Regions from separate parts of the Homo sapiens genome. Here regions 1 and 3 are each linked to region 2. The links come from fine-mapping of genetic effects on gene expression. A gene starts in region 2. Each other region holds a variant in brackets. All regions are shown on one strand. Distances are between the middles of the regions.

Region 1 (10,791 bases), 35 kb after region 2:
GGCCCTGGGTGGGTGCACACCAGTGTCTGCTTTAACATCAGCCATCACTCTGGACGTGGATGCTGTCTGCACACATTGTGTGTTTGCATTTCCAGTGTAAAAGAATAAGAACAAAAGGAAATGGGGAAACTCTGCAGGGAGTTGTGGGATGAGGGGCAGGGAGGCAGAGCTTCTTCGAGAATGAAGGGAGCAGAGGAAAGACAGTCACGGGCTGTGCAGAGGTGTGGTTCTGGGGCTTCCAGAAGAGCCGTTTCCACCCAGTTCCTCGTGGGTGATGGGCAGGAAGATGCTTTGATTCTCCCAAGCCCCTAAAGTGGCATCAGCAAATTGATGGCCTAGAGAGTCACCTTAAAATGGAAAGAAGGAGCCACCCCAAAGGTCAGAACAAGAAAGGCACTGGTTGGAAAGGAGAGCAAAGGTGAAGAAGTGGCAGATACTGACGTTTTCAGCCTGGACTAAGCTCATTAAGTGGCTCCAGGCAGGCCAGGCGTGGTGGCTCACCCCGTACTTTGAGAGGCCGAGGTGGGAGGACTGCTTGAGTCCAAGAGTTCAAGACCAGCCTGGGCAACATAGTGAGACCCCCCCCGACCCCCGCCTTTACAAAACATTTTAAAAATTAGCCGAGCGTGGTGGTGTGCTACTCAGTAGTCCTGGCTACTCAGGAGGCTGAGGTGGGAGGATTGCTTGAGCCCAAGAGTTTGAGACCAGCCTGAGCAACATGTCAATACCCCGTCTCTCTACAAAAAGTTTAAAAATTAGTCTGGCTTGGTGGCATGCACCTGTAGTCCCAGCTACTGGGGAGGCTGAGATGGGAGAATCACTTGAGCCCAGGAGGCAGAGGTTGCAGTGAGGCAAGATCACGCCACTGCACTCCAGCCTGGGCGACAGAGTGAGTCCTTGTCTTAAAAAAAAAAAAGAGAGAGAGAGAGGTAAGTGGCTCCAGCCTGTCGGTCAGAAACAAATCACAATAATAGGCATTGTATCTTCTACCATTAAAGCAAACCAACCAACCAACCAACCTACCTCCCCAGGAGGCTCTGATGGGCCGCTGGGCAGGGTCCACTGCCTGCCATCAATCCCTGCCCACATGTGGACAGCCCTCTCCTCAGCTGCTGGGTCAGCCTCGTCACTCCTGTTTGGTGCCTGGGAACTCCTGGGGCCTCATGCTTACCTTAGCCCCCTTCTCTCCTGCAGATTTCTTCCAGGGCAAGCACTTCTTTCTTTACGGGGAGTTCCCTGGGGACGAGCGGCGGAAACTCATCCGATACGTCACAGCCTTCAATGGGTGAGTCTCCAGGGACTGGGGTGGGGAAGGGGTGATGGATCCAAGGGAACGCTCAGGGACCTGCTGGGAGGGGTGGGGGTGTGGGAAAGAAGACCATCAGGAGGATGGAGAAGGGCCATGCCCAGCAGGTGGGCACAGGTCATGGAATCCGAATGCTAGCTTGCCCACCACCGGCAGCCCAGGGTGCATTGCTTGCCTCAGTTTCCTCTTCTGTATGGCGAGGATCCCTACCCCTACCCCTGCTTCTGAAAGGGACAGCCTGAGGATTAGCCACTGTGGGAGCTCTGGTCATTGTGGCTGTGGCAAGATGGATACATGAAAGAATGGAGCCTAGAGGCAACCTAGAGGCGCATAGGTGGGGACAGTGTGGGGACAGCCATTGAGAGTGGCTGGGGAGTAGGACGTCAGTGCTGATTCCCTGATGTGCCTTCTACCTCTTTTCTTCTCTCCCGCCAGGGAGCTCGAGGACTATATGAGTGACCGGGTTCAGTTTGTGATCACAGCACAGGAATGGGATCCCAGCTTTGAGGAGGTGAGTACCAAAGAGGCAGAGAATGGGAGACCCGGGCACACCTTTGCATCTCCTCCGTCCTCCCCTCGATGACACATTCCCGTATGGACTCCACCCCACCCTGCAGGCCCTGATGGACAACCCCTCCCTGGCATTCGTTCGTCCCCGATGGATCTACAGTTGCAATGAGAAGCAGAAGTTACTTCCTCACCAGCTCTATGGGGTGGTGCCGCAAGCCTGAAGTATGTGCTATACACACACACACACACACACACACACACACACACACACGATGCATTTAATAAAGATGAGTTGGTTCTCATCCAAGAGTCTCCCAAAACTCTAAGAGGCTCCCTGGGACCTGGGGAAGAATGCTGGGCACCTCCGTCAGAGATCTGGTAGAGAAGGAACTCTTTGTCTCTTCTGCTTGGCCCCTTATCCCTGTGTTGGCAAGAGGCAGGGAACTGGGAATCTGACCCTCAGCACTGCCCCTCAACTTTTTCTGGCCCTCTGAGCCACACCTGTATCTTGGCTGTCCCTTTGTGGCTGGAGGCCTGGGTACCCATGAGGCTTGTCTCTCTCCTGAAGCCTCAGCGTCCCCAGGCCAGGGATAGTGCCTTTCCTCCAGGGTTTTCAGAAGTAGCTGTATAATGAATGTCACCACTGTGGTTTTACATCACCTAATTTAGGAGGTAGAATGGGAGGAAGGGACATTTTAAGCAACCTACCCAAACCCTGCACCCCCTTCAAGGCTCCACCACATTTAAGTGGGAATTGAGGTGATTGTGAGGGAATCAGGGCAGAGGATGGGATGGTGCTCTAGGCAGAGGCCATAGCATGGGCCAGGAGGTGGGAAGCAGCCTGAGGCAGGCAGAAGAGCATTGCTGCCTTTGGCAAAGAGGCTTTGGGGGCAGATTTAGAAAGCCAGGCACAGTCCTTGCAGCTCTGCTGTCCAGTGTGATCACCACTGGGTACAGGTGGCTATTTAAATTAATTAAAATGAAATGAAATGAAATGTAAACTTCACTTCCATAGTCACACTGGCCATGCATTTCAATTGCTCAGTGGCTATTGTATTAGGCAGTACAGAGAACATTTGCATCAGTCTAGAAAGGTCTTTTGGACAGGGCTGGCCTGAAGGTCTGCGAACTCCAGGCTGAGAAGCCTGGACTTTAATCTGAGGGTGGGAAGGTTGGGAGGGGGTTTGAGCAGGACAGAGGCCAGGGTCAGAGGTAGGTTTGAGATCTGACCTTTGGGTAACCTTTTATTGGACATTCCAAGCCCTTTCCCAACTTTTGCCTCATCAACCAAGGGCTACCAGTCTCACTCCTGTCTCTTTCTGGACCTTTGTTTTTGCATCTTTAAGATGAGGGTGGTTTATTATTATTATTATTATTATTATTATTATTATTATTATTAGAGACAGGGTCTTGCTCTGTTGCCCAGGCTGAAGTGCAGTGGTGCAATCATTGTTCACTCCAGCCTCGAACTCCTGGGCCCAAGCGATCCTCCTGCTTCAGCCTCCTGAGCAGCTGGGACTATAGGCATGTACCACCACACCTGATAAATTTTCTATTTTTTGTAGAGATGGGCTCTCACTATGTTGCCCAGGCTGGCCTCGAACTTCTGGCCTCAAGCAGTCTTCCCGCCTTGGCCTCCTAAAGTGCTGGGATTACAGGTGTTGAGCCACACTGCCCAGCTAAGGGTGGCTTTAGACTTCATGTTCACTCATTCGTTTGCTCATTCACACTCCCACCGATAACTCACCATGTTAGTTTTGTACTACTGCTATAACAAATTATCACAAGCTCAGTGGCTTAAAATAATAGAAATTTATGATCTTACAGGTTTGGAGGTCTGAAGTCCAAAATGGGTATCCTTGGGCTAAAAATCAAGGTAGGCAGGGCTGCGTTCCTTCTGGAGGCTTGAGGGGAGAATCTGTTTTCTTGTCTTTTCCAGCTTCTAGAAGCCACCCACATTCCATTCACCTTCTATATTCCAGGCCTGCAATGGCCTGTTGAGTCCTTCTCACATCCCATCACCCTGACCTTGACTCTTCTGTTCCATACTTCCACATGTAAAGATCTTTGTTATTGTAGGCCAGGCGCAGGGGCTCACGCCTGTAATCCCAGCACTTTGGGAGGCCGAGGGGGGTGGATCACCTGAGGTTGGGAGTTTGAGACCAGCCTGACCAACATGGAGAAACTCCATCTCTACTAAAAATACAAAATGAGCCGGATGTGGTGGCATATGCCTGTAATCCCAGCTACGTGGGAGGCTGAGGCAGGAGAATCGCTTGAACCCGGGCGGCGGAGGTTGCAGTGAGCTGAGATCATGCCATTGCACTTCAGCCTGGGCAACAAGAGATCTTTGTGATTACATTAAGCCTACCTAGATCATTTGGGATAATCTCCCTGTTTTTTTGTTTTTGAGACGGAGTCTTGCTCTATCACGCAGGCTGGAGTGCAGTGGTGTGTTCTTGGCTCACTGCAACCTCTGCCTCCCAGGTTCAAGCAATTCTCTGCCTTAGCCACCCGAGTACCTGGGATTCCAGGCGCCTGCCATCATGCCCAGCTAATTTTTGTATTTTTAGTAGAGACGGGGTTTCGCCATGTTGGCCAGGCAGGTCTCGAACTCCTGACTTCAGGTGACCCACTCGCCTCAGCCATTCAAAGTGCTGGATTACAGGC[G/A]TGAGCCACTGTGCCCAGCTGGGATGTGAACATCTTTGGGAGGCCATTACTCTGCCTACCAAAGCCACCATGTGGGGGACACTGGGAAGACAGTATGAAAAAAACAGTAGTCCCCGATCTCATTGGCCTGACATTGTACAGGGGGAGAGAGATGGTGCACGTGCAATGCAACCTTGGACAGTGGGAAATGCTGTGAGAGCAAGGAAAATAGAGCATTGTGAGTGACAGAGCAATGGCAGGGTCCTGGTAGTTTATAGATAGGATGATTGGGGATGGCCTCTTGGAGGACTTACCCCTCTGCAGGGACCTGGGAGAAGTAAGGAGTATCTGAGAGAGCCCTTCCAGGTAGAGGAAAAGCAAGTGCAAAGGCCCCGAGGCAGGAGCGAGCATTATGTGTTCAAGGAACAGCTGGGTGGGTGTCAGGCTATCAAGAGACCTAGGATCCACCTAGACTCAGGTACTGCCCTGTGGTTTGGTTGCCAATAAATCTCATCTTTCCTGGCCTCATTTCCCCAATCTGTAAAAGTAAGGTTGGACCAGATCAACGCCCTCTCACATGAGTATGTGTCTTTGAAATTTTGCTGCTGGTGTGGTTGCTTTGGAGAAATTCTTCCGGACAGTTCTCTGCATAAACGTGGATACAAGCAGCACTGCTGGGTTGGGAGGACAGAGTAGAACCCTTACCCCTCCCAAAACCTTCCCCGAAATGCCTTACTGAGTAGAGTGCAGTTCAGCAGCCTGCTCAGTCCTAGCCCTTAGGCTGGACACTTTCTTTTCTCCTACTTTTATTTTAAGTTCGGGGGTACATGTGCAGGATGTGCAGTTTTGTTTCATAGGTAAATACATGCCATGGTGGTTTGCTGCACAGATCATCCCATCACCTGAGTATTAACCCCAGCGTGCATTAGGTATACTTCCTGATGCTCTTCCTAGCCCCCCACCCCCACCCCCTGACAGGCCCCAGTGTGTGTTGTTCCCCTGATGTGTTCTTTTTTTTTTTTCTGAGGCAGAGTCTCACTCTGTCGCCCAGGCTGGAGTGCAGTGGCATGATCTTGGCTCACTGCAACCTCTGCCTCCTGGGTTCAAGGGATTCTTGTGCCTCAGCCTCCCGAGTAGCTGGGATTACAGGCGTTTGCCACCACGCCCAGCTAATTTTTGTTTTTTAGTAGAGGGGGGTTTTGCCACGTTGGCCAGGCTGGTTTTGAACTGACCTCAGGTGATATGCCCGCCTCCACCTCCCAAAGTGCTGGGATTACAGGCGTGAGGCACCATGCCCGGCCATGTCCATGTGTTCTCATCATTCAGCTCCAACTTATAAGTGAGAACATGCAGTGTTTGATTTTCTGTTCCTGCGTTAGTTTGCTGAGGATAATGGCTTCCAGCTCCATCCATGTCCCTGCAAAAGATGTGATCTCATTCCATTTTATGGCTGCATAGTATTCCGTGGTGTATATGTACCAAATTTTCTTTATCCAATCTATGGACACTTTCTACTCTCTCACTCCTTCCACCACAACTTTCAGATCTCAGTTCAGACATTACATCCTCAACAAGGCCTTTCCTAACCTCCACTGTATAATAGGATATGCCAGGTACACACTCTTAAAATACTATATCTCATCCATCCTAGTCATAACTTTACATTCATTTATGGTCACATTTACCCATGTTTTCATCTATGATTTACATTCTTTTGTCTCTTAAGGATACTGTCTCTACTTCTGGAGTTACTAAGATAATTCTTCTTATTTCCATGTAAATATTTTTGAGTTCTTCTCTTCAGATTTAGATCTTAAACTCCCAGAAACTTGTTTTTGCATATGGTGTGAGGTAGGGATCTGCAGTAGTTTCCCATTGTTGCTGTAACAAATTGCCATAAGCTTAGTGGTTTTAAACTACACAAGTTAATTTTATTATAGTTCTGGAGGTCAGTAGTCCAAAATCAGCCTTATTGGGCTAAAATCAAGTGTCAGCAGGGCTGCAATCCTTCTGGAGGCTCTAAGGAGGAATTTATTTCCTTGCCCTTTGTAGGCAAAATTCCTTGACTTGGGGCCTTTCATCACTCGAATGTTTGCTTTCATGATCACCTCTCTCTGTCTTCTGCGTCCTTCTTTCCCATATAAGGACCTTTGTGATTATATTGGGCCTATCTGAATAATCAGGATAACTTACCCATCTCAATCACATCTGCAATGTCCCTTTTGCTACATGCAAGCTAACATACAGGTTCTGGGGATTCAAATGTGGATATCTTTGGGGGATCATTCTTCTACATACCAGGGGATTCAACTTAATTTTTCCCCATGTCTCTTAGCCTTATTTATGATTAGTCTGTCCATCCTCCACTCATCCATGTCAAGGCTCAACAAACTATAGCCCATAGGCAAAATCCAGCCTACCTAGTGTTTTGGTAAATGTTTATTGGAACACAGCCATGCTCATTCATTTATGTATTGTAATGTGTGTGGCTGCTTTCCTGCTACAGTGGCAGAGTGGAATAGTTGTGGAAGACACTGTATGGCCTGCAAAACTTAAACATATAACAGATGCAGCTGGGCTTGGCGGCCCACGCCTGGAATCCCAGGACATTGGGAGGCCAAGACAGGAAGATCACTTGAGGCTAGGAGATTGAGACCAGCCTGGGCAACATAGTGAGACCCCATCTCTACAAAAAAATTTACAAAAAAAATTTAGCTGGGGGCTGGGCGCAGTGACTCACGTCTGTAATTCCAGCACTTTGGGAGGCCAAGGCAGGTGGACCACTTGAGGTCAGGAGTTAGACCAGCCTGGTCAACATGGTGAAACCCCATCTCTACTAAAAATACAAAAATTAGCTGGGCATGGTGGTGCACACCTGAAATCCCAGCTACTCAGGAGGCTGAGGTAGGAGAAGCTTGAGCCCAGGAGGCAGAGGTAGGTTGCAGTGAGCGGCGATCATGCCACTGCATTCCAGCCTGGACAACAAAGCAAGACTCCATCTCAAAAATAAATAAGCCGGGTGTGGTGGTGCTTGCCTGTAGTCCCAGCTACTTGGGAGGCTGAGGTAGGAGGATCGCTTGCGCCCAGGAATTCAGGGCAATGAGCTGCGATTGTGCCACTGCACTCCAGCCTGGACAACAGAGCAAGACCCTGTCTAAAAAACAAAACAAAACAAAACAAAACAAAAAAAACCCAATGCCCTTTGACTTACAATGATGCTACATCCGGATGAACCCATCATAAAGTTGGAGAATCCTGAAATCAAACCATTGTTAAGTCAGGGGACATCTGTACTCTTTGGCCCTTTATAGAAAAAGGTTGCCACTCCCAGGTCTACAGGTCCAGTTTGTCATATGTCAGCATAAGCACAGGTCTGTTTCTGAGCTCTCAATTGTCTTCCACTGGCCCGTTTTCAAGCCACCACCACCAATTTCATTACTGCACAGCTTTGTAATCTTGTATCTGGGTTGAGGGGGTGGGGAGCCAAGGCTCTCCTACTTGTTCTTCTAAATGGACTTGGGGCCGGGCATGGTGGCTCATGCCTGTAATCCTAGCACTTTGGGAGGCCAAAGTGGGAGTCCAGAAGTTCAGACTAGCCTGGGCAACATAGACCCTGTCTCTACATACATACACACATGGATGAATGAATGACTTGGCTGCTGCTGCTTTTTTTTTTTTTTTTGAGGCAGGCTCTCTGTCGCCCAGGCTGGAGTGCAGTGGTGCAACCTTGGCTCACTGCAACCTCGTCTCCCGCGTCCAAGCGATTCTCATACCTCAGCCTCCCAAGTAGCTGGGATTACAGGTGCATGCCACCATGTCCAGCTAGTTTTTGTATTTTTAGTAGAGATGGAGTTTCGCCATGCTGACCAGGCTGGTTTTGAACTCCTGACCTCAAGTTATCCGCCTGCCTCAGCCTCCCAAAGTGCTGGGATTACAGGCCTGAGCCACTCTGCCTGGTCTGCTGCTGCTTTTTAAAATTAGTGTTCACTTTCCTCACTAGACAAGGTCTGTCTTCAATGCTGTGTCCCCAACACCCCATGCAGGGACCAGCACACAGGAGGTGCTTAGTATTTGTGGAATGAAGAACATTCCAATGTTAGCTTGTTCATCCTTATTTTATAATGAGAGAAACAGGCTCCATAAGGGGAACTGACTTTGCCTGAGGTGTTGCTTGCCCCTTACAAATGCCTTATAACCCACCCATTTTACAACAAAGGCATCTGAATCCAGAGGAGTGACAAAGCTTGTCCAAGGCCTGGCAACTTGTAAGAAGTGGGTCAGGGATGGGTCTGAATCTTGGGCTTTTTTTGTTTTTCTTTTTGAGATGGGGTCTCGCTCTGTCACCCAGACTGGAAGGCAGTGGCACCATCACAGCTCATGGCAGCCTTGACCTGCCAGCTCAAGTGATCCACCTTCCTCAGTCTCCCAAGTAGCTGGGACTAAGGTACATGCCACCACAGCCAGCTTTTTTTTTTTTTTTGGTAGAGATGGTGTCTCGCTATGTTGCCCAGACTGCTCTTGAACTGGCCTCAAGCTAACCAAAGTGCTGGCATTATAGGCGTGAACCACCACACCCAGCCTGAAGCTTGGGCTTTTGAATGTCTTTAAATGGTCAGTGGTATATACCCTTTGTTCTTGCTCTTATCACCTAGTGTATCGGAGATTTTTCCACATCAGTACATATAGCGCTTCCTTTTTTCCTATGGCTACCTATTCCATTCCATGGCTGTAATTCAATAGTCGGTCCCCTGTTCTTGGGCACTTGAGTTGCTTCCAGTCTTTGGCCACAACAGTCGCACTGCAGTGAACACCCTTAACACTATGCTTTTTTTTCACATTCATGAGTTTATAGAATAAATTCCTACAAGTGGAAGAGTTGAGACAAGCATGTATGTATTTTCAATTTCTTAGATACCGTCATATGGCCAAAGTGGAGACACCAGTTTAAACTTTTAACAAGAGAGCCTGTTTGCCCACAATCCTCATCAACCCACGATAGTAGCAGACTTTTTACCTTTGCCATGTAAGTGTGTGGGGAGAAGCAGAGCCAGCGCTGTCAAACCACAGCTCCACGTCCATGGTTTGAGATCTCCCCAAAGCAGGGGAGCAAAGAGTTCCTCGGGCTTCTGAGCTCGAGCCCAGTATAAATGGCCAATCCCTTGCCCTGCCCTCTGCCAGCTATCTGGAAGAGGCGAGCTCATACAGTCGGTCTTAGAAATCCCACCTCTTACTGGCTAGGGCTGGCGGCAGAAGGGGACAGTGAGCCAAGGGAGGGCTCAGTCTCTCTCCCCCTTGTGCTCCACCTGGTGGTGGCTGCGTTGATGAAGGAGCAGTAAGCGTCTCTGGCCAAAGGCCTGGCCGCAGCTGGAGCATCGGTGCCAGGCAGTCGCCTGGCTGCCGGGCGCGGTTGGGGGGTCGTGACATAGGCGATGGGCGGCCAGCTTGGAGGGAAATGAGAAAGCCTTGGGGCAATGCGGGCAAGGATAGGGGCGGGCGTCGGTGGCGTGGTGCGTGTGGCGGTGGGCCGCCAGCTTGGAAGGGTAGCAGAAGGACTTGGGGCAGTCGGGGCACGGGTAGGGGCGGGTGGGTGCGTGGGTCCAGAGGTGAGCCGCCAGCTTGGAGCGGTGGCCAAAGGACTTCGGGCAGTGTGGGCACGGGTGCGGGCGGGCGCCGCTGTGCGTGAGGCGGTGGGCTGCCAGCTTGGAGGGGTAGGAGAAGGCCTTGGGGCAGTCTGGGCATGGGTGGGGTCGGGCGCCTCCGTGTGCTAAGCGGTGCGTGGCCAGCTTGGACGGGTACGAGAAGGCCTTGTCACAGTCGGGGCAGCGGTGCGGGCGCTGGGGCGGGGGCCGCCGGCGAGGCCGGGGAGGCGAGCCCGCGGACGCGGTGGGCCCTGGAGCTGACTGGCTGGGCTTCTGCGGTGGGCCCTGGTGGGGAGCTGGGGGACAGGAGGGCTGGTGGGCTCCAGGAAGCAGCCAACGCCCTGGGCCTAGGCCAGGCTCCGCCACGACTTTGATATTCGTGGGGCTCCTCCAAGTGTACCTGGGCACCTCAAGCATCACATTGAGACTCCCCAAATTGCATGTTTCTGCTCCCCCCTCCCCCCAGGCGTCATTCTGAGGGACTCCAAAGGGTTACTTTCCTGGATCCCCAAAGCTACTAAGGCTTCCTCAAAGCTACCAAGGTATCCGTTTCTAGTATCTTCCCAGTGATCACCCTGACATCCCGCATGTCATCCCTGACCCGTCCCTTCTGTAAGGCTCATTTCCTGAGCCTTAGCAAATGGTCACTGAGGCTCTCTCTGAGCCAAATGGGAGGATTTCCCAGAA
Region 2 (10,791 bases):
ACTCCATCGAGGGGTCCCCCAGCTCTCTCTCCTCCCTTCCCGAGGGTGCGTTTCCTCTTCTATGCCGGGATGGGGGTTCTCTTCAAGCCTTTCAGGTCCTTCCTTAACCCACCAACGCTGGCTGGGTGATTTTCGATCTCACTTTCCTTTCACAGCCTCTCCCGACCAGTGTTTTCTCCCTGCACCCAAAGTCGCCTTTATTCCCTCACCAGGCCTCATCATCTCTCCTCCTGTGATTGAAAGTCTCTTTCAGCTTTGTATAAACATCTCTGTCCCCCACTGGTCTCTTCCATTGCTCCCTTTCTCCTCCATCATTTTTCAGGTCTGGGGTGGTCTCTTTCATTTAACTCATGCCCATCTTCTCTCTTCCATTTTATTTTCTGAGACAGGTTTCCCTCTGTTGCCCAGGCTGGAGTGCAGCGGTGTGCACTTAGCTCGCTGCAGCCTCGATCTCCTAAGCTCAAGTGATCCTCCTGCCTCAGCCTCCCAAGTGGCTGGGACTACAGGCATGTGCCACCATGCGCAACTATTTTTTTTTTTTTTTTTCTGTAGAGATGGATCTCTTTTTGTTGTCCAGGCTGGTCTCAAACTCCTGGGCTCAAACGATCCTCCCACCTCAACCTCCCAAAGTGCTGGGATTACAGGCGTGAACCACCGTGCCCGGCCTCCCTTTCATTTTACTCATCCACATCTCCCCCTCCCTGTCTCTGCTTCTCCTCTTTACGATGATTTGCTCAGCCAGGCACGGTAGCTCATGCCTGTAATCCCAGCACTTTGGGAGGTCGAGGCGGGAGAATCACTTGAGGTCAGGAGTTAGAGACCAGCCTGGCCAACATGGCGAAACCCCGTCTCTACTAAAAAATACAAAAATTAGCCAGGTGTGGTGGCACGCACCTGTAATTCCAGCTACTCGGGAGGCTGAGGCAGGAGAATCGCTTGAACCTGGGAAGTGGAGGTTGCAGTGAGCAGAGATCGCGCCATTGCACTCCATCCTGGGTGACAGAGCGAGACTCTGTCTCAAAAAAGAAAAAAAATGATTTGCTCCATACTTCAAGGTTATCATCCATCTCCTGTTTGGGGTGATCCCTTTTCTGTCTCTTCCACCACTCCAACACTCCACCATCATCTCTCCTCCCTCGGTCAGGAATGACCTCTTCCCTGATTACACTTACACTTTCCCACCCCAGCCCAGCCTCTTCCTTCTCTATCCACTCCCCACCATTTCCACCTCCTGCCAGTTAGATTCTTCCCCTCTCACTATTTCTCTGCCCCCCACAGTGTCTTTCCTTACCCCTCTTCTGCCTAAGAAAGTCTATTAACTCTCACCCCTCCCACATTTTCCTTCTCTTTAGGACAGTGTCATTTTCAGAATTCTGTGACAATAATGATTTCTATCACACCACTTATTTCTGTTCCCTCCATCTCATGATGGTCTTTCCCTCTTTCCTGCTCTCCACTGATTTCTTCCCACGCTCCCGTCTTGAGAACCATGATGATCCCCCCTCAGCATGGTAGTCTCTTCCACCCTGAAGGTACACCCCACCTCCCCACCAGGTCCCAGGCCACATCCTCTTACTTGAAGTAGCCTTCCCGACCAGGAGCACACATGTGTCCTTGTCACTGCTGCAGGTCTTCATTTGGCCATGGCACCTGCTCCCCGCCGCCGTACATATTTCGCAGTGTAGTGGGCACCCTGCAGTGTAGACAGAGGGCGAGGCTGTAGTCATGGGTGGTGTGGTCTTCGGACCACGACTTTGACTTAGGACTTTTGTGTCCTGAGAGAGGAGGGACCAGCAGCTCCCTGGTTTTTCATGGGCGGGATGTTGACCACTGCCCAAGGAACTGTCCAGAGTTGGACGAAGAAGCAGTGGTGATGCCAGCAAAGCTGCTTCCAGGGGCGGGAAGCGACTCCACCATGAAGCCTGTTTGCCTAATTACATGGCTGGGGATTTTGGATGCCAGGGTCCGCTGAGAAAGCTCAGGGGCAGGGAGGGGTCGTGATGGAGGTTTCCATGGACTTTTGTGAAACTTCAGGTCCAGCTGGTTCTTGAATGTGGGATTCTCCTCCTTGAAGGTGCCATGTAGGTCTTGTAGACAGCAGGAGCTCAGGCAGGGGGCCCTGAGGCTAGGGTCTGCATCCCAGGTCAAGGAGGGAGAGTGAGGACCAGGAGGGCAGAGGACTTGAACTTCTTGGTTCTGAGAGAGGGGACAGCTAGGGGCCCAGAAACCTGGGTCCTGGGGAAAGTGAGGCTTACTTGGACTCCTGTGTGCAGGGGAGGAGGGGGCTGGGGCCTGAACTTCTTAGTCTAAGGAGAAAGGAAATCTCTCTACCTCTTTTAAAAAAATATATCATATGATATTAATGTATTTTTTTTGAGATGGAGTTTTGCTCTGTCACCCAGGCTGGGGAGTGCAGTGGCACGATCTTGGCTCACTGCAACCTTTGCCTCCCAGTTTCAAGCAATCCTCTCACCTCAGCCTCCCAAGTAGCTAGGATTACAGGCGCCCACCACCAAGCTCAGCTAACTTTTTTTGTATTTTTAGTAAAGACGGGGTTTCACCATGTTGGCCAGGCTGGTCTTGAACTCCTGACCTCAAGTGATCCACCTGCCTCGGCCTCTTAAAGTGCTGGGGTTACAGGCATGAGCCACCGCACCTGGCCTTCTCCCTCTTTTTTTTTTTTTAATTATATTTTTAAAGATTTCCCTTTCCAGCCATGCTCTCATCTGATTTCCTAGAATTGAGATGTGTTTGGGATCCTTCCTGGAGGATGGAGGATTCAGAGCCCACCAAGCCCCTCTCTCAGGGATCCAATCACAGGAGCTTTTCTTCTCTGGGACCCCCAGGCTTTCTCTTCCTTTACCCTTGGCCTCTTCCATGAATCTGAATTTCCAGAATGCCTCCCCGTTCACCTTGAGGACTTGCTGAAGGCTCTTTCTCTCTCTATATCTCTCTCTCTCTCAATCTGGGACCTCTCTCTTCCTGAGGTCCCAGAGACAGTTCAGGTCCCTTGTCACTTACCAAGACCCAGGAGGGTGCAGAGCAACACAAAGGCCAGCAGAAAGGTCTCTGGTCTCCTGGAGAGCCTCATGGTGTGTGTATCAGCAGTACCTGGTCCCCAGCTTTTATAGGAAGCTGAGGAGGGGTGGGTCTGGACCCACATTCACCCTACGGGGAGAAATAGCTGAGGTCAGAACCCAGGGCAGTCCTCTGTGGCCTCCGGGTTGGGAAGGCAGAACCAGAATCCAAAAGTGACCTGGGCATCTTGTGCCCAGCCCCCCACCTCCATGGAGACCCCAGGAGTCTGGGCTTCCATCCCCCTCTTCTATTAGAACCCAGAAAGTCACCACCCTGTTTTCTCACCTTCCCACGGCCCATTGTTGTTTGTTTGTTTGCTTGAAGACCAAGACGGAGTTGGGCCTCTTGATTCCCAGTGGCTGCAAGAACTGGGATTCCCTCTCCTTCTCTCTCTTCCCCTCTCCTCCCAAGGAAGCACCCAGTGTGGGTAGGGCCCCACCTTGGAGCACCCAGCATGTCCAGGCTGGTCCTGCGGGTGCGGGGTGCCTTGTCTCCCTTCCCCTCTCTTCATGTGCTCGGCTCACACTCCTTGTGTGTTTGGGCTGTCTCCAGCTGCGACCCCACCCAGGGCTGCACCCTTGGGTCTCCAAGGCACCGAATGAACAGAGGGATGTCTGTCGGCAGTCATAGGCGGGCGTAGTAAAAGACAGATGCCCACAGTCCACATATTGGGAAACTGAGGCTTTTGTGGAAGAACTCCAGGATAGGGGTGTGTGTGTGTGTGTGTGGTGGGGGTTGGGCACATGCTTTGTGTTATATTTAGGACGCAGAACCCTTCTCTTTTGGCCTCAGGCATAAGGCTGAAAGAGATCTGCTAATTTTTTTCGCGCGTGCGCGCGCGCGTATGTATGTATATGTGCGTGTGTGTGTGTGTGGCAAGGGGACAGAGAGAAGAGTGCAGCCGCCTGAGCCATTTGAAGAGATCCTGTTGCGTAGAATCCAGGTTCCCTACGAAACTACGAAAATTCACTCAGATTTGCTGTCCTAGCCCAGCGCAGTCGCTCACGCCTGTAGTTCCAGCACTTTGAGAGGCCGAGGCAGGTGGATCGCTTGAGCTGAGGAGTTCGAGACCAGTCTGGGCAACATGGCAAGACCCGCCGCCCTCTCACCCCATGTCTCCACAAAAAATACAAAAATTAGCCGAATGTGGTGGCGCGTGCGTGTAATCCCAGCTACTTAGGAGGCTGAAGTGGGAGGATCCCTTGGCCCCAGGAGACAGGGGTTGCAGAAAGCCGAGATCGTGCCACTGCACTCCATCCTGGGTGAGAGAGCAAGACCCTGTCTCAACAAAAAATTTTTAAAAAATAAAATAAATAATAATACAGCAAAAAGATTTGCTTTCTCGGCTTCAGTGTGGGCGGTAACTCCATCGTGCAATGAGAAAGGCGAATTTCTTCCAGACACCAATCCCGGAGGTCGCTTCTGTTGCTAGGCTCCCAGAAAGCAGGGTTCGGACGTCATTGGGAGGCGAGGCTAGAGCGGGGTTGTGTGTGGCGGAGGGAGGCGGGGCTGGAGGAAACGCTCGTTGCTAAGGAACGCAGCGCTCTTCCCGCTCTGGAGAGGCGCGACTGGGCTTGCGCAGTGTCGACGCCGGCGCCGGCGCGCCGGGGTTTGAAAGGCCCGAGCCTCGCGCGCTTGCGCACTTTAGCCAGCGCAGGGCGCACCCCGCCCCCTCCCACTCTCCCTGCCCCTCGGACCCCATACTCTACCTCATCCTTCTGGCCAGGCGAAGCCCACGACGTTGACATGCCGGAGATCCGCCTCCGCCATGTCGTGTCCTGCAGCAGCCAGGACTCGGTGAGGGACCTGCATGGGGGAGGTTGGAAGACGTGAGGGAATTAATGAGGATAGCTCTTAAAAGAGCTTTTGGGGTTCTCTTGGAAGTCTAAGGAGAGTCATGGGGGGATTTCCAGGAGGCTAAAAGTGAATTGTGGAGAGATGTTGAATTAGGGACGTTCCGGCGTCTAGGGAACTTCCGGAGAGAAAAGGAGGAATAGGGAAGCTTTCTTGGAGAGCCCATAGGTGAACTTCCACGGGAAAGTGTTGTAGGGGAAACTCCAGGCAGAGTGTCGGGGGATTAACGGGAGAGCTTAAATCTGGGGGTCGTAGAGGCCTTGGGAGGACTCAAAGGAATCATCTGAGAGCTGGAGGCCTAGCTGTCATCTCTGTGCCCTAATTCTCCTCTCCCACTGTTGTTTCCAGACTCACTGTGCAGAAAATCTTCTCAAGGCAGACACTTACCGAAAATGGCGGGCAGCCAAGGCAGGCGAGAAGACCATCTCTGTGGTCCTACAGGTGATCCTGCCACCCCACCTCCTCCTCACTAGGAGTCTGGAGTCCGGGGTTCCAGATTCTGCTCCTGAGCCAACTGGCAGTGGGTTTAGTCACTTTCTTTGCTGGGCCTCAGCTTCCTTACTCGGAAAATGGGCAGCATAATCCCTGTGCCCCTCAGCAGAGAGGAAAGGAGACCCAAGGATTAAGTCCAGGATGACCACAGGAATCAGTGTGTGGTCCTGGGCAGGTGGCATCTACTTTCTGGGTTCCAGTTTCCTCAGCTGGAACAAAATGAATCATTGCCACGTACTCTGCCTCCTGCAGCCAGTGGGCTCAGGGCTGGAAGGTGTCCAGGAAGGTCGTCTAAGCCAATCAACTCCACTTTAAAGAAGGGGAAACTGGCCGGATGCCGTGGCTCATGCCTGTAAACCCAGCACTTTCAGAGCCTGAGATGGGAGGATTGCTTGAGCTCAGGAGTTCCAGACCAGCCTGGGCAACATATCAAGACCCTGTCTCTATTTTTATTAAAATAAATAATTTTTTTTAAAGAATAATAGCCAGGTATGGTGGTTCACACCTGTAATCCCATCACTTTGGGAGGCCGAAGCTGGAGTATTGCATGAGCCCAGGAGTTTGAGACCAGCCTGGGCAATACAGTAAGATGTCATCTCTACCAAAATTTTATAGATTAGCTGAGTATGGTGGTGTGCACCTGCAATCCCAGCTACTGGCGAGTCTGAGGTGAGAGAATTGCTTGAGCCCAGGAGATGGAGGCTGCAGTGAGCTGAGATTGTGCCACTGCACTCCAGCCTGGGCACCAGAGTGAGACCCCCAAAATATAAAAAATAAAATAATAATAATGAGAGCTGGCATTATTCAACGTTACCTGTCAGTCGCTGCTCTACACACCTCACTCACATGGATTAGCTCATTGAGTCCTCATAAAAAACCCCAAGAGGCAGGCTCTGTTATCCCCACTTTTACAGATGAGGAAACTGAGGCCCAAAGAAGTTATACAATTTGCCTGACAGTCAATCTTTTATTTATCTGTTGAGACAGAGTCTCACTCTGTTCCCAGGCTGTAGTGCAGTGGCATGATCTTGGCTTGGCTCACTGCAGCCTCTACCTCCTGGGCTCAAGCGATCCTCCCACCTCAGCCTCCTGAGTAGCTGGGACTGCAGGTGTGCACCACCATGCCTGGCTAGTTTTTTTTGTATTTTTTTAGAGATGGGGTTTCCACCATGTTGCCAGGCTGGTCTCAAACTCCTGGGCTCAAGCGTTCCTCCTGCTTCAGCCTCCCAAAGTGCTCGGATGACAGGCATGAACCATTGTTCCTGGCCTGGGGGCTGCTTTATGACTATAAGGAGCAGAACACTCTGTGGATAGTGCTAGGGTGACGGAAAAATTAACCTTTTGTGAATGGGCAGTCATTCAGCAAATATCCACTCCTCTCCCTCCCACTGGAGGGGGAGTATATTTCCCTGCTCCATTGATGAGTTTGACCATATGATTTACTTAATGGAATTTCAGCACATCTAACTTCAGCAAGGGCCTTAAATGCACTTGGCTTTTGTGCTCCCATAATATGCCATGAGAACATTTGCCAGGTTACTGCTAATCCCAGAAAACTGTGGAATCTCATGGAAGAGACCTGAATCCTCCCAAACTGCAGCCAAAGCAGCCATCCCACAAATTCTTATAAGAATGCTTGTTGGTATAAGTCTCAGTTTTCATGTTGGGAGGTCGAGGTGGGTGAATCGCTTGAACCCAGGAGTTTGAGACCAGCCTGGGTAACATGGGGAAACCCTATCTCTACGAAAAATTATAAAAAATAGCTGGGCTTGGTGGCGTATGCCTGTAGTCCCAGCTACCAGGGAGGCTGAGCGGGGAGGATTGATTGAGCCCATAAGGTTGAAGCTGCAGTGAACTGTGATGGTTTCACTGCACTCCGGCCTGTGAGACAGAGTGAGACTGTATCTCAAAAAAAAAAAAAAAAAAAAAAAGAAAAGATCTCAGTTTTAGGATGATTTGTTACACAGCATTATTACAGTGTAAGTTAATACAACTTGGTTGTTTTAAACCACTGAGATTAGGGACTCCTTTGTTACTGTAACATCATCTGGTCCACCCCAATTGATGTCAGTGTTTAGTGCCTGTCAACTAATGGCCTCCACTTCCCAGGTTCAAATGATTCTCATGCCTCAGCCTTCTGAGTAGTTGGAATTTACATGCCTGGCTAATTTTTGTATTTATAATAGAGACCGAGTTTTGCCATGTTGGCTAGGCTGGTCTTGAACTCCTGACCTCAGGAGTTCAAGGCAAATGAGCACCAAATGCTAATTTAAGTGATCCACCCACCTTGGCCTCCCAAAATGTTGGGATTACAGGCATGAGCCACTGCACCTGACCTCAGTCTTTTAAACTGTGATAGATACAGATTGCTGACAGTTTTAGTCTTGAGATCTAGATTCAAGCCCCCAGCTCTTCCTCTTAATCGGTGACCTCAAGAAAATTGTTTCATTTCTCTAACCTGTTTTCTCATGTGTCCATTGGGAATAATGACATCCAAGCCCGGAGTTGTGAAAATTCGGTGACATAATGTCTGCACAAGTGCTCTGTCAACATGTAGGTGTTTGTGTAGAGGGAGGGATTTGTGTTTTTATTACTTAGTGGGTGATGATTCCACTGGGCTCTCTTATGATCAAGTGACTCCAGGGAAATCACATTTCATTCTGTTACCCCAGTTGCTGTGGAAACAGAGTGACTGGAGGCAGAAGAGACAGAACCTGTCTCTGGCCTGGGAGAGACTGAGGGAGTATTGCAGCGGTCACCAACATGGTAAACCCCAGAGGGAGCAGCTTGGGGAGGTGATGTGTTTCAGTTGGGATGTCCAGGTTTGATGTGACTTTGGGACATTCTAGGGGTGGCATCCAGGAGGCAGTTGGGGATCACATGTGGAGCTGAAGACAGAATGTGGGGAAGTTGTCAGTGCAGAGAAAGAACCTATAGACTCGGGAGTAGATGATGGATTTATTTGTTCATTCACTCATTTATTTAGTCAAGTATTTATTAAGTGCCTTCTGTAGGCCAAGCACTGTTTTAATACAGCAGTACACAGCAGAAGACAAAAAATATTCACTCTCAGTGGGGTGCAGTAAGCTCACGCCTATAATCCCAGCACTTTGGGAGGCCAAGGCCTGGCAGTTCGAGACCAGCTTGGGCAACACAGGGAAACTTCATCTCTACTAAAAATACAAAAATCTGCCAAGCGTGGTGGCCTATGCCTGTGGTCCCAGCTACTCCAGAGGCTGAGGCGGGAGGATCACTTGAGCCTGGAAGATCAAGGCTGTAGTGAGCTATGATCGCACCATTGCGCTCCAGCCTGGGCAACAGAATGAGATGCTGTCTCTTAAAAACAAAAGAAATTCAGTCTTGTGGAGCTTTCACGTTAGTAGGGAAAGACTGACAAATGAGTCAGTGAAACATATGTTGGATGATGAGTGCTATGGAGGAACTTAATGAAGGGGAATGAGAGTGCCCCAGCTGGAGCTGGAGCAGTGGCAAGGATTTTTATTTAAATAGTAGGGTCCGGGAAGGCCTCCCTGAAAAGGGGACATTTGAGCAACATGAGCTATGTATGTATCTAGGGAAAAGACTCTGAAGCTGGCTTGTGACAGCAAGGAGGCCAGTATGGCTGGGGTGGAGTCAGCCAGGGGGAGAGAGGTAGGAGATGAGGTAACAGGGTGGGACTGGGAACCCCTAAAAAACCACTTAAGGCCTGGAAAGCCATTGAAAGGACTTGAGCTTTTACTCCAGGTGTGAGATAGGAGCCACCGGAGGGCTCCGAGCAGAGGAGGGACAGGATCTGCCTTAGGCCTTCACAGGATCCTGCTGGCTCCATGTTGACAATCAACTGCAGGGGCCACACACAGGAGTGGGAGATCAGCATTGCAGCAGTTGTTTTGTTAACTTACTCCACGTCAGAGACCCTTTGGAATGACTGATTGCATCTGGCAATGACTAATTTGTGGGGTTACTCTGGATTCATCAAATGCTAATTTTGATTCTTTTGACGTAACTGATAAAGGCAGACATTTCTGGCCACCAAGGCAGTAGGCTTATCTCTGGGTTGTTATGTTATGTTTTGAGACAGGGTCTCACTCTCTTGCCCAGGTTGGAGTGCAGTTGCAAAGTCATGGCTCACTGTAGCCTCAACCTCCTGGGCTCAGGCAATCCTCCCACCTCAGCCTCCCAGATAGCTGGGACTACAGGCGTGTGCCGCCAGGCCCAGCTAATTTTAAAAATTTTTCGTAGAGATGGGGTCTCACTATGTTGCCCAGCCTGGTCTCGGACTCCTGAGCTCAAGCAGTCCTCCTGTCTTGGCCTCCCAAAGTGCTGGCATTACAGGCATGAGCCACTGCACCTGGCCACATCTGTGGGTTCTTCTACTACCCTGCATTTTCTCCTCTAATTATTGTTATGCAAAATCTCGATCTTACCACATGGGGCTTAGCCATCTGCTTATGACAGCCCCACACACCTGGTTGTTTGCAGTAGCCACAGCAGGCTCTGTTGTCTGTTCATCACCTGCTCCCAGAGGGAAATGCCAACCTCTTTGCTAACTACTCCTGGGCTGGAGGGGTGGCTTGGACAAGACCCAGATATAACTCTGGTGTGTCACTGGAGGTGTGTCATTTTTAGAAGAAATGTTCATCAGCAATAGGGCCTATGGTCATTTTTGATTGTTATTGGTTTTCTAATCACTCAGTTCGCCACTGTGGTGTCTTAAATTTGTTTTTACTGTTTTTTGATGTGTAACATACATAGAGTGAAGTGAAGGTGTAAGTAAGAGTACAGCTCAGTGACTCTTTGCAAACTGCAGCCCTGTGTACTCCACACCCAGATGCAGCACAGAACATGCCTAGCCCCCAGCAGTTCCCTCAGGTTCTTTCTGTCAGTACCCCTGCAAGGGTAACCACTGTCCTGATTGTTAACAGCATAGATTCATTTTGCCTGATTTTGAATTGCATATAAAATGGAATCGTGTGGTATAAACTTTTCTTATCTGGCTTCCCTTGTTATGTTTGTTCATTTCATCTATGTCGTTCAGTGTAGCTGTAGATGATTTATTGTGATTTTTTTTTTTTCTGAGACGGAGTTTCGTCTTGTTGTTCTGGCTGGAGTGCAATGGCACAATCTCAGCTCACTGCAACCTCCGCCTCCCAGGTTCAAGTGGTTCTCTTGCCTCAGCCTCCCAAGTAGCTGGGATTACAGGCATGCACCACCACGCCTGGCTAATTTTTTGTATTTAGTAGAGACAGGTTTTCACCATGTTGGTCAGGCTGGTCTCGAACTCCTGACCTCTAGTGATCCACCTGCCTTGGCCTCCCAAAGTGCTGGGATTACAGGCATGAGCCACTGTGCTCGACTCCTATTGTC
Region 3 (10,293 bases), 27 kb before region 2:
CATTTGGGGACCCAGGCCATCCCTTAAGCCTGTTGTCTCCCCCATGGTCCAGACTGGGTGGCCATAGCCTGGGTCCTGCTGGCAGAAGAGGACAGGATGCCTGGTGAGGTGCACGTGTTGTCTTACAAGCCCTGGCCTGCCAGGGGCACACACTGCTTCCATTGACACGCCTTTGCTGAGAAATTAGATATGTGGCCGCAGCTAACTGCAAAAACAACCTGGGAGAAGCAGTCTAGCCAAGCGCCCAGAAAGCAGAAAACAGTTCATGGAGGACAGCTAGGGCTTTCTGCCACATAGCCTAGGAACTTCCACAAAGAGGACTTTAATTATAATCACAGCTACGCTTTCTCAGCGCTTCCTGGGTATCTGGTGCCAGTCCAAGGGCTTTATATATATTGACTCATAGAAATGGTGCATCTAGGAACTTACAAAAATAGAACCTTAATGATAATTGCAGCTGCCATTTTCCCAGCACTTACAGAGTGCTGTACTTAATTTGCATGAGATTATCAGCTTCTTAGAATAACCCTGTGAGACAGGGATTGTGATCCATTAATTCATTTAACAAATATTTTTGAGTACCTGCTGTGTGCTAAGCATTGGGAACACAGCAGTGAATAAAATAAAATCGTTGTCCTCATGGAGCTTACATGGGAGTGGGTAGAGGCTGCTGGTGAAGACAGACATAAACAAGTAAGATACAGCATATGCCGGGTGCTGATAAATGCTGTGAGAACAATAAAGCACTGAAAGGAGGCCCGGCATGGTGGCTCACTCCTGAAATCCCAGCACTGAGGTGGGTGGATCGCTTGAGCCCAGGAGTTTGAGACCAGCCTGGGCAGCATGCCAAAACCCCATCTCTACAAAATACAAAAAATTAGCTGGGCTAACGATGGTACACGGCTATAGTCCTAGTACTAGGGAGGCTTAGGTGGGAGGATTGCTGGAGCCTAAGAAGTGTCGCTGCACTCCAGCCTGGGCAACAGTGAGACCCTGTCTCAAAAAAAAACCACACACACACACACACACACAAAAAAAAAACTGAAGGAAGGCCAGGTGCAGTGGCTCACACCTATAATTCCAGCACTTTGGGAGGCCGAGGTGGGAAGATTTCTTGAGCCCAGGAGTTGAAGGCCAGCCTGGGCAACACAGTGAGACCCCATCTACAAAAAATTAAATTAGCTGGGCTTGGTGGTGCATGCCTATGGTCCCAGCTATTCAGGATCACTTGAGGCTTGGAGGTTGAGGCTGGAGTGGCCTGTAATTGTGCCACTGTGCTCACTGCACTCTAGCCTGGATGATGGCAGGAATTTGTTGCAAGAAAAAAATTTAAAAAAGGACTGAAGGGAGAACTGTTCTGGAAGGAGGTTGCAATTTTAAAGAGTATAGTCCTCCCTGAGAAGGTGACAGATCTGAAGCCGGGGGGAGCCATGTACATCAATGGGGAAGAGCACTTCAGGCTGGAGGAGGCAGGAGCCTGCCTGGTGTGCCAAGGAGGCGAGAGCTGTAGGGATGAGGTCAAAGGGTAGCAAAGGACCAGCTCTTTACAGCCTTGCCAAAACTTGGGCTCAGAGATGGGAAGTACTAATTCGTAATTCACAGAAGCTTGGCGCCGAAGCTACTTTGAAAATAGAAGCCTAATTATAATAATAGCTATCATTTACTGAGAATTTACTGGGCAACCAGCCCTGTTCTAAGGCGCTTTACATGTGTTAACTCATAGAAGGTTGGAGACTAAGAACCTTCAAGAATAGAACCTGAATTACTGTAATGGCCATCATTAAGTCAGCGCTCACGGTGGACCAGGCCCTGGGCTCAGTGCTTTATGTGGACAGTCACATCAGATCCTTACAAGTTAGGGACTGTTACTTGTTTACTCATTCACCCAACAATGATTTATTGAGCACCTATGAGATGGCAGGCACTGCTCTGGGAGTTGGAAATATAGCAGTCAACACAATGAACAAAAACCCCCTCCCTTTGTGGAGGTTATAATGGGGAAGACAGTAATCAAGTATTTAAGTAAAATATACAAATTGTGGCTGGGCGCGGTGGCTCATGCTTGTAATCCCAGCACTTTGGGAGGCCGAGGCGGGCGGATCAAGAGGTCAGGAGATTGAGACCACGGTGAAACCCCGTCTCTGCTAAAAATATAAAAAATTAGCTGGGCATGGTGGCGGGCACCTGTAGTCCCAGCTACTCGGAGAGGCTGAGGCAAGAGAATGGCATGAACCCGGGAGGCAGAGCTTGCAGTGAGCTGAGATCGCGCCACTGCACTCCAGCCTGGGCGACAGAGCGAGACTGTCTCAAAAAAAAAAAAAAAAAAAATACAAATTTTATGGAATGTTAGTCATAAGTGCTATGGAGAAAAAGGAACAGGGTGGGAAGCTTGTGTGTGTGAAGGTTGCAGTTTTAAGTAGGGTGGTCAAGGAAGGCTTCACTGAGATGACATCAGAGCAGAGACCTAGAGAAGGGGCAGGAGTGAGCCTTGTGGCTGTCTGTGGGGACAGTAAATGCAATGGCCCGAGGTGGGAGCCCACTTGGGGTGCTTGGGAAGAGAACACAGGGCCACGAGGCTGGAACTGAGGAAGACAGGTAAGAGGTGAGGTCAGAAAGTAGCGGAGAACCAGGCCGTAAGAGCCATATACTGACTTTGGCATTGTCTCCAAGTCTGAGTCCTCACAGTAATCTGAGTGCTCATAATAATCCTTAGAGGCTACCTTTATGACTATTTTATAACTGCTACAACAGGCCAGGCATGGTTGCTCATGCCTGTAATCTCAGCAGCTTGGGAGGCCAAGGCAGGTGGATTGCCTGAGGTCGGGAGTTTGAGACCAGCCTGGCCAACATGGTGAAACCCCATCTCTACTAAAAATACAAAAACTTAGCTGAGTGTGGTGGTGCGTGCCTGTTGTCCCAGCTACTTGGGAGGCTGAGGCAGGAGAATCGCTCGTACCTGGGAGGCGGAGGTTGCAGTGAGCCCAGATTGCACCACTGCACTCCAGCCTGGGCAATAGAGCAAGACTCCGTCTCCAAAAAAAAAAAAAAATCTGCTACAACAGAGGCACAGGGAGGTTGAGTTACCTGCCAGAGGTCACAAAGCCAGTAAGCAGCAGAGCCCTGGTTTGTACCCAGACAACTGGATGCAGGTGCATCCACTCTTAACCACTAAGCCACACACCAGAAATGGCAGTCTAGTGCCCACAGCCACCATCTGACTTAGAGGAGTGTATCTGGTCTCCACAGAGCTATTGAATTTTTTTAAGTTACGTTGGTTACCAATGTTGAAAAATGGGTAATTTCACATTTAAAAAAATTGAAGTTTCTGGACTGTCTCGAAAATTGTGAGATCTATATTGCTGAACCCCCAGTTCCCATGGGGATAGTGGTTTGTTGGTGCTGAGAAGGAGTCACTTTCTGTAGGGGAGGCATTCACTCTTATGTGCCCAGTCACCAATGCCTCACATCTGGACACCCCTACCCTGCCTGCTTGGCCCTGAAGAGCATCTGCTTTTTTTTTTTTTTTTTTTTTTTTT[G/TG]AGACGGAGTCTCGCTCTGTCGCCCAGGCTGGAGTGTAGTGGACATGATCTCAGCTCACTGCAGCCTCTGCATTCTGGGTTCAAGCGATTCTCATGCCTCAGCCTTCTGAGTAGCTGGGACCACAGGCGCGGTACTACCACCCCCGGCTAATTTTTGTATTTTTAGTAGAGATGCAGTTTCACCATGTTGGCCAGGCTGGTCTCGAACTCCTGACCTCAAATGATCCGCCCGCCTTGGCCTCCCAGAGTGCTGGGATTACAGGCGTGAGCCACCGTGCCTGGCCAGCATTTACATTTTTGACACCTATTACAGGATTTCAGACCAAAGCATTTTTCAAAACCCACGTTTCTCATCCCAGAATCTCCAAACCTGACATTGATACACTCTGAACTGAGACTTTCCTAGCCACTATAGCTTAGCATCATGGAACCTCAGAATCATCAGCAGAAATTCCAGGCTCATTAAAACAACAGAGTCTTAGTCCGTTTGTGCGGCTGTAACAAAATACCTGAGACTGGGTAATTCATAAAGAGCAAAGGTTAATTCCTCATAGTTCTGGAGAGTGGTTAAGTCCCAGGTCAGGGAACCAGCAGATTTGGTGTCTAATTAAGGGTTGCTCTCTGCTTCCAAGTTGGTGCCTTCTTGCTGCATCCTTACACAGTGGAAGGTGGCAGAAAGGGATGAATGCTGTGTCCTCAGATGGTAGGAGAGATGGAAGGGGAGAAGGCCTAGCTACTTCCCTTGGGTCCTTTTCTAAGGGCACTTATCTTGTTCATGAGGGCAGAGCCCCTGTGACTTAACCATCTCCTAAAGGCCCCATGTCTGAATACTATCACATGGGGTCTTAGGTTCCCAACATATGAATATTAGGGGGACACATACATTCAACTATAGCACATGGATAAGTGTGATCATAGGTTTTGTTTCCTGGAGCAGCACCCCATCCTGTCTTCTGCCATAAGACAGGACTTCTAAGGACAAATATAGAGAATTTCCATCCATTGGCAAATATTCCTAAGGATCACAAGAGGCACTATCAATCAGGAGTTGGGTCATTCAGCCAGCACCCATTCAGGATATGGAGTCAGGCCAGGCATTCCCCAAAGAGGATTTAATACAGGGAATAGTTACACAGGTGTTAGAAGGCTGAAAGTCAGCCAGGCACGGTGGCTCACGCCTGTAATCCTAGCACTTTGGGAGATCGAGGTGGGCGGATTGTTTGAGCCGAGGAGTTCAAGACCAGCCTGAACAACATGGTGAAACTCCATCTCTACAAAAAATTAGCTGTTCATAGTAGTGCACACCTGTAGTCCCAGCTACAGGGAGGGAGGTGGAGGTGGGAGGATCATCTGAGCCTGAGGAGATCAAGGCTGCAGTGAGCCAAGATCTTACCACTGCACTCTATCCTGGGCTACACAGCGAGACCCTGTCTGAAGGGGAAAAAAAAAAAAAAAAAAAAAATGAAGGCCAGGTGCAGTGGCTCACACCTATAATCCCAGCACTTTGGGAGGCCCAGGCGGGCAGATCACTGAAGGCCAGGAGTTTTGAGATCAGCCTGAGCAACATAATGAAACCCCGTCTCTACTAAAAATACAAAAAATTAGCCAGTTATAGTGGTGCACACCTGTAATCCCAGCTACTCGGGAGGCTGGGGCTGGAAAATTGCCTGAATCCAGGAGGCGGAGGCTTCAGTGAGCTGAGATCACACCACTGCACTCCAGCCTGGGAGACAAAGTGAGACTCAAAAAAGAAAAAAGAATTTAAGAGTGCACAGTTTACTAACATGATGGCAATGGTGGTGCAGGTTGGGCCGCAGGAGTCCTGTTGACCCATTTTAAGTTTGAGATCTCCATTTGTTTATTCAAGTGGTTATATCTTATGTCTGGGGTTTGGGCTGCAGATAAAGATGTGGATGTCATCAGTGATGCTATTTAGAGAATCTGTGATGTCTGGAGAGAACAGGAAGCCCAGGGTGTACTTGGGCAGGCTGCTATCTTGGGAGAGCATGTGGGATTAGATACTTAGGTTTGGTTTAGGGGAGCCACTGTGGGGGTAGTGTGACAATATCTGGGTTGGAAACTTCGGAGCATTCACCAGGAGCCAGAGGAAATATCTGGCTCTTCATGAAGTTGGTATCTTGAAAAAAACTGATGGTCTACTAACTCCAACCAGTCTCCCCATAAGTCACCCCAGCAAAGAGATCCAGGGTAGCCCTGCCCCAAAACACACACACACACACATACCCTACCTACCTACCTACCTGGTAAAGATGGTGGTTCCCAGGATGGAAATTTCTGCTTCCAGACTCAGAGTAGGTTGAATGTCTTATTAGACCAGGGGTTGGCAAACTTCTCCTGTAAAGGGCTAGATGGTAACTATTTTAAGTTCTGTAGGCCTTAAAATCTCTGTTGCAACTATGCAGATCTGCTGTTCTAGGCAAAAGCAGCCATCAACGATACATAAGTGAATGAGTATAAAACTGTTCAAATAAAATTTTATTTGCAAAACCAGGCAGCAGGCTAGAGTTGGCCATAGTTTGCAGACCCCTGTCTTAGGCTGTAAATTCTGTTGCATGTGACAGAGACCCAAAATAATGGTGGCTTAAATAAGATAGAAGTTTCTTTCTTAGATAGCAATATGGAAGTGGGCTGGTATGGTGGCTGTGCTCCTTGAAATTGACGAGAGACCCAGGCTCCTATCTTGTTGCTCTGTCTTCCCACGTGTTGCTCTTATCCTTATGGTCTGAGATGGCTGGATACCATTTCCGTATTACAGTTAGGAAGGTGGAAAAAAGGTATGTCCCTTTCTTTTCTTTTTTTTTAAACAGTCTCACTCTGTCACCCAGGCTGAAGTGCAATGGCACGATCTTGGCTCACTGCAACCTGTCTCCCAGGTTCAAGCAATTCTCCTGCCTCAGCCTCCCAAGTAGCTGGGATTACAGGCATATGCCACCACACCCGGCTAATTTTTGTATTTTTGGTAGAGACAGGGTTTCACCATGTTGGCCAGGCTGGTCTCAAACTCCTGACCTCAGGTGATCCACCGGCCTCAGCCTCACAAAGTGCTGGGATTACAGGCGTGAGCCACTGTGCCCAGCCGTCCCTTTCTTAAGCTTGACTGTTCTACCCAGGAATTTAGCCAGAAATCAGTCACAAGGCCACATCTAGCTGCAAAGGAATCTGGGAAATGCAGTCTTTTCAGCTACTGTGTGCCTAGCTAAAAACAGAGACAGTGATCAGTCTACCACATCCACCTCACCTGTGGGCTTTAAAAACATCCCTCAACATAAACAGAGTCTATAAGTATTATATGCAAGGCATCGACCATTGTCTGCAGGTGCAGGGCAGGTAACTAAGGGGGTAAAACTGGCCTGGTGGGACTCATCTCCAGTTGAGGGTGACACCCACTGCTCCCTCCAGCCTGTTGTAACTTCTGTCCTGCCCCTGCTGACAATGTCAGCCTAGGTTGGGCCTTTCAAGAGAGCTGAAAATAGGATCTTAATGGGAAATCTCCCAGTGTTGGCCAAATAAAACCCGAAACAGAAGGTATCTCTGTTTGATTCCAAACCAGTTTCCCCACAAAGCGAGGCCAACTCTGGCCTGAGTTCCCCCACCTGCCCACACCCTTATGTTCTCTGGAAATTCCCACTCAAAAGCCAGAGCTCCCTGTTTAGACATTTTAATATGGATGTTTTCTGTTTTTAGATACTATTCCTGTTAGCTTATTCATACCATTTCACCTACACATATGAAAAAAATATTTCAGGACTAGAATGATATACAAAATTATTTCAACGAGACATAAATTATCGGGGGACTAGTGCCATCTAGTGCCATGGCCCCTCTAAGTGAGGATGGCAGGGGGTGGAAAAGAGACACAAGGACTCCAATTGCTACCCCCACTCAATTGGGGTCCAGCTCCCAACTTTGCTGCCCCATCCCCAAAAGCCCAAGTTGCTCCACATCTGGAACTCACCTGGTGGCATTACAGGCCAGCAACACCTCACCTTTCCTGCCCCCATTCAGGCAAAGGTCCAGGGCAATTTGCTCCCATAGCCCATGGCATCCATCTGGGAAGAATGAAGGGTGATGGCACAATCTGCAGCTAGGTATTTAACTGGGAATAAGGGAGACACAAACCATTTCTCTCCCGCACTCCCTTCCCATTTTTTTTTTTTAACAAAAGATCTCATTATTATCTGATTTCACTGTCTCACGAAGGCCCTGTGTGCTCCAAAGACTGAAGCTCTAAATAAGAATCTTCTGGGTCCTCTTTATTAAGAGCCCTCTGCCTTCCCAGGGGAGGGAAGCAAATCCTTCAGGGCCCCCAGAGTTCCTGCACCCCATATCATGGGTGAGTCCTACCAGCCACAGAGCCACCCGTCACCGTGGAGAGGCTTAAGCTGCACTCAGAGCTCCCCCCGGGCATGCCGAATGTAGTGTTGATGCAGCCCTGCTTCCTGAGCAAAGTCCTGACCGCACTCTGTGCAGGCGAAGGTGCCAGGAGGGGCACGGACCTCATGCATCTGGCGGTGCCGCCTCAGAGAAACAGCCTGCCCAAAGGTCTTGCCACAGTCAGGACAAGGGAAGGTGGGCTGGGCAGTAGTGGTTGCAACCGGCAGGGTGGGCTTGGCGGCTGGACCGTGGCTGCGCTGGTGGGTGATTAGGGCTTTGGAGGAGGGGAAGGAGCGGGCGCAGGTGAAGCAGATGAAGAGGACCCCCTGCAGCTTCTGGGCCACGAAGTCCGCTGGGTGCTCCCGCTTCATGTGACGCTCCTGGAACTTGGAATCTGCGAAGGTGATGAGGCAGCGGGTGCACTTCGGGGCCCCCAGGTGGCCTGAGGAATGTGGGGGAGAGGTCAGGGGAGGCCAGCAGGAGTCTCCAAGACCTCTTCCTGAACCCCAGAATCACACCAACAATTAACATTGAATGTGTTATGTGCTAGGTTCTATGCTAATGCTGGACAACCAAACAGGAGAACTGTTCTTGCACCTATTTTATGGATGAGCAAACTGAGATTCAAAGAGGTTAGGCAAGTTGCCCATAGTCATGAGGCTAGGAAAGGAAATGGTGGAGCCAGGGTTGGAACCCAGAGAGTCAGCCTGCCCAACAGAGGGGTATGGTGATTACAGCACAGCCTTTGGAGCCAGACTGCTTGGGATTGAATCTCACCTCCACCACTTCCTAGGCAATTACACCAGTTTCCTTATCTGGAAAATGGGCTAATAACAGTATCTACTCCATAGGACCGTTGGAAGGAATAAATGAATTGCTGTACAGTCATTTGCAATTATGACTAATGATACAGAGAAATCCAGCCCGACATCCAGGATCTGGCCTGGTACTCACAGCTAGACCTTGGTGTTCTGTTGAACATAAATTTTCACAGAATATCAAGGACAGACAAGGCCACGCTGTGACTAAAATGAATCAAGACAAGACTACATCATCATAATGTCTGAGCACAGACAAAATATGAATACTGTCCAAGCAGAAAAATGACCAAACATCCTCCTATCCTGGCTAATGTGAATGTCTGCTGCTGCTTTATCAGTCAGAGCTTGAGCCTCGCCTCCTTCCTTCCTCCTTCTGGGTAAGATTTATTACGATAGCCAATCATAGAATTGCCCCTGCTTCCTGGTAGCATCCAATCCAGAGCAAAACAATTTTGCTTGAACCTTCCCCAAAATCACCACCCACAAGCCCAAATCCTGTGTCGTTTTTACCATTCTTAGTGAGACACCCCACAGTCCCCCCATGGTCTGTGTTCATTGCAGTGAGAAACCCAACGTGTTCAACTGCAGGTGTGTTCCTGGTAGTCTCTGGCTCAAGGGCATTGAGACTACAGCTCTTGTTACAAATACCTCTCTCTGCCTCAGTTCCCAGTTTAAAGGGCCTATTATTAGAAGGACTCAATGAGATAATGAATGTTAAAATGGTTCATAATATGAGAATAAATACACCTAGCTCATAATAAAACACTGAGCAGGAGGTGTTGCTATTACATGTCAAACTGGCTACCATCATTAACCCCTAGCTTTCCCCTTTGCTGCAGTTAATCCCATACCCACCCTGTGAGGTGGGAAGTACCACCCTCTTTTGACAGTCAAGGAAACCAAGGCCCAAGTTACACTGAAAGTCTAGGGCAGAGTTGGGACCAGAATCTTGGGGTTTCTCTCCCAATAGAACCATTCCCAGCCACATCTCCAACCCAAGCCTCTCCTGGAAGCCACCCTATCCCTCTGAATGCATAAGCATTGCAATCCTGCTTATGTGGCCAGAGGAGGGTGAGTACTCTGGCCACATAAGCTGGTGTGAGGAGATGCACTTCCTGCTAGAGCAGCTCAGGGACCATTACAGCCCCTTCTCAACAGGCAAAACTCTGTGGCGCCTTGGACACCGAAGTGCCACAGAGATCTTAGCATCAGCTCCTGCACCCCACCCTCCTCTAGCCCGCCAGCCATGTGTACTCACAGATGTTGCCTCCTGGGCTCTGGGGACTTCTCTCCTTGGGTGAATCCTGCTGCTTCATGTTCTCTTCAGGGTTCGGGTCCTCCATGGTGCTGGGACCCTTCTAGTCAGGAGAGGAGCGTGCATAAGTGAAGCTGTTCATCTGTTACCAGTCTTAGAGGGCACCCTAAGTCTATGACCTTTGACATCGCCAGAGGCTCTCCTTGCCTGCCTTTGACCCCTACGACATACTATCTCCTTGAACTCTAATTGATGGAGTTCTTGCTAAAAGAAGCTTCAAACCTCC

Direction of the effects. Alleles are on the strand shown, and positions count from the first base shown. SD is a standard deviation of normalised expression in the study named. Not every link is listed here.
As copies of TG replace G in region 3, the expression in fibroblasts of the gene that starts at base 4,756 in region 2 goes up (large effect, 1.1 SD a copy in GENCORD).

The links.
Region 1: its variant is fine-mapped to the expression of XRCC1 in transverse colon (GTEx, PIP above 0.99).
Region 3: its variant is fine-mapped to the expression of XRCC1 in fibroblasts (GENCORD, PIP 0.95).

What each region holds. Positions count from the first base shown.
Region 1 is chr19:43,534,638-43,545,428 of GRCh38, reverse strand. ZNF575 (zinc finger protein 575) reads right to left here. Exons shown (of 4, transcript NM_174945.3): 4 at 9,342-10,400. The coding sequence ends at 9,742. XRCC1 (X-ray repair cross complementing 1) reads left to right here. Exons shown (of 17, transcript NM_006297.3): 15 at 1,195-1,285; 16 at 1,742-1,817; 17 at 1,924-2,118. The coding sequence ends at 2,037. Among named protein-coding and RNA genes, the nearest start is that of ZNF575, 6.8 kb to the right of the region's middle. The variant G/A (reference allele first, on the strand shown) is at 4,487.
Region 2 is chr19:43,569,492-43,580,282 of GRCh38, reverse strand. It overlaps XRCC1 (X-ray repair cross complementing 1), which reads left to right and starts at 4,756. Exons shown (of 17, transcript NM_006297.3): 1 at 4,756-4,875; 2 at 5,281-5,373. The coding sequence starts at 4,825. PINLYP (phospholipase A2 inhibitor and LY6/PLAUR domain containing) reads right to left here and starts at 4,482. Exons shown (of 6, transcript NM_001193621.3): 1 at 3,364-4,482; 2 at 3,022-3,168; 3 at 1,577-1,693. The coding sequence starts at 3,091. RefSeq lists enhancers at 9-68, 3,330-3,855, 3,856-4,382, 4,383-4,542 and a silencer at 4,643-4,802.
Region 3 is chr19:43,596,911-43,607,203 of GRCh38, reverse strand. ZNF576 (zinc finger protein 576) reads right to left here. Exons shown (of 3, transcript NM_001145347.2): 2 at 10,011-10,110; 3 at 6,047-8,373. The coding sequence starts at 10,095. The coding sequence ends at 7,946. Among named protein-coding and RNA genes, the nearest start is that of ZNF576, 5.5 kb to the right of the region's middle. The variant G/TG (reference allele first, on the strand shown) is at 3,537.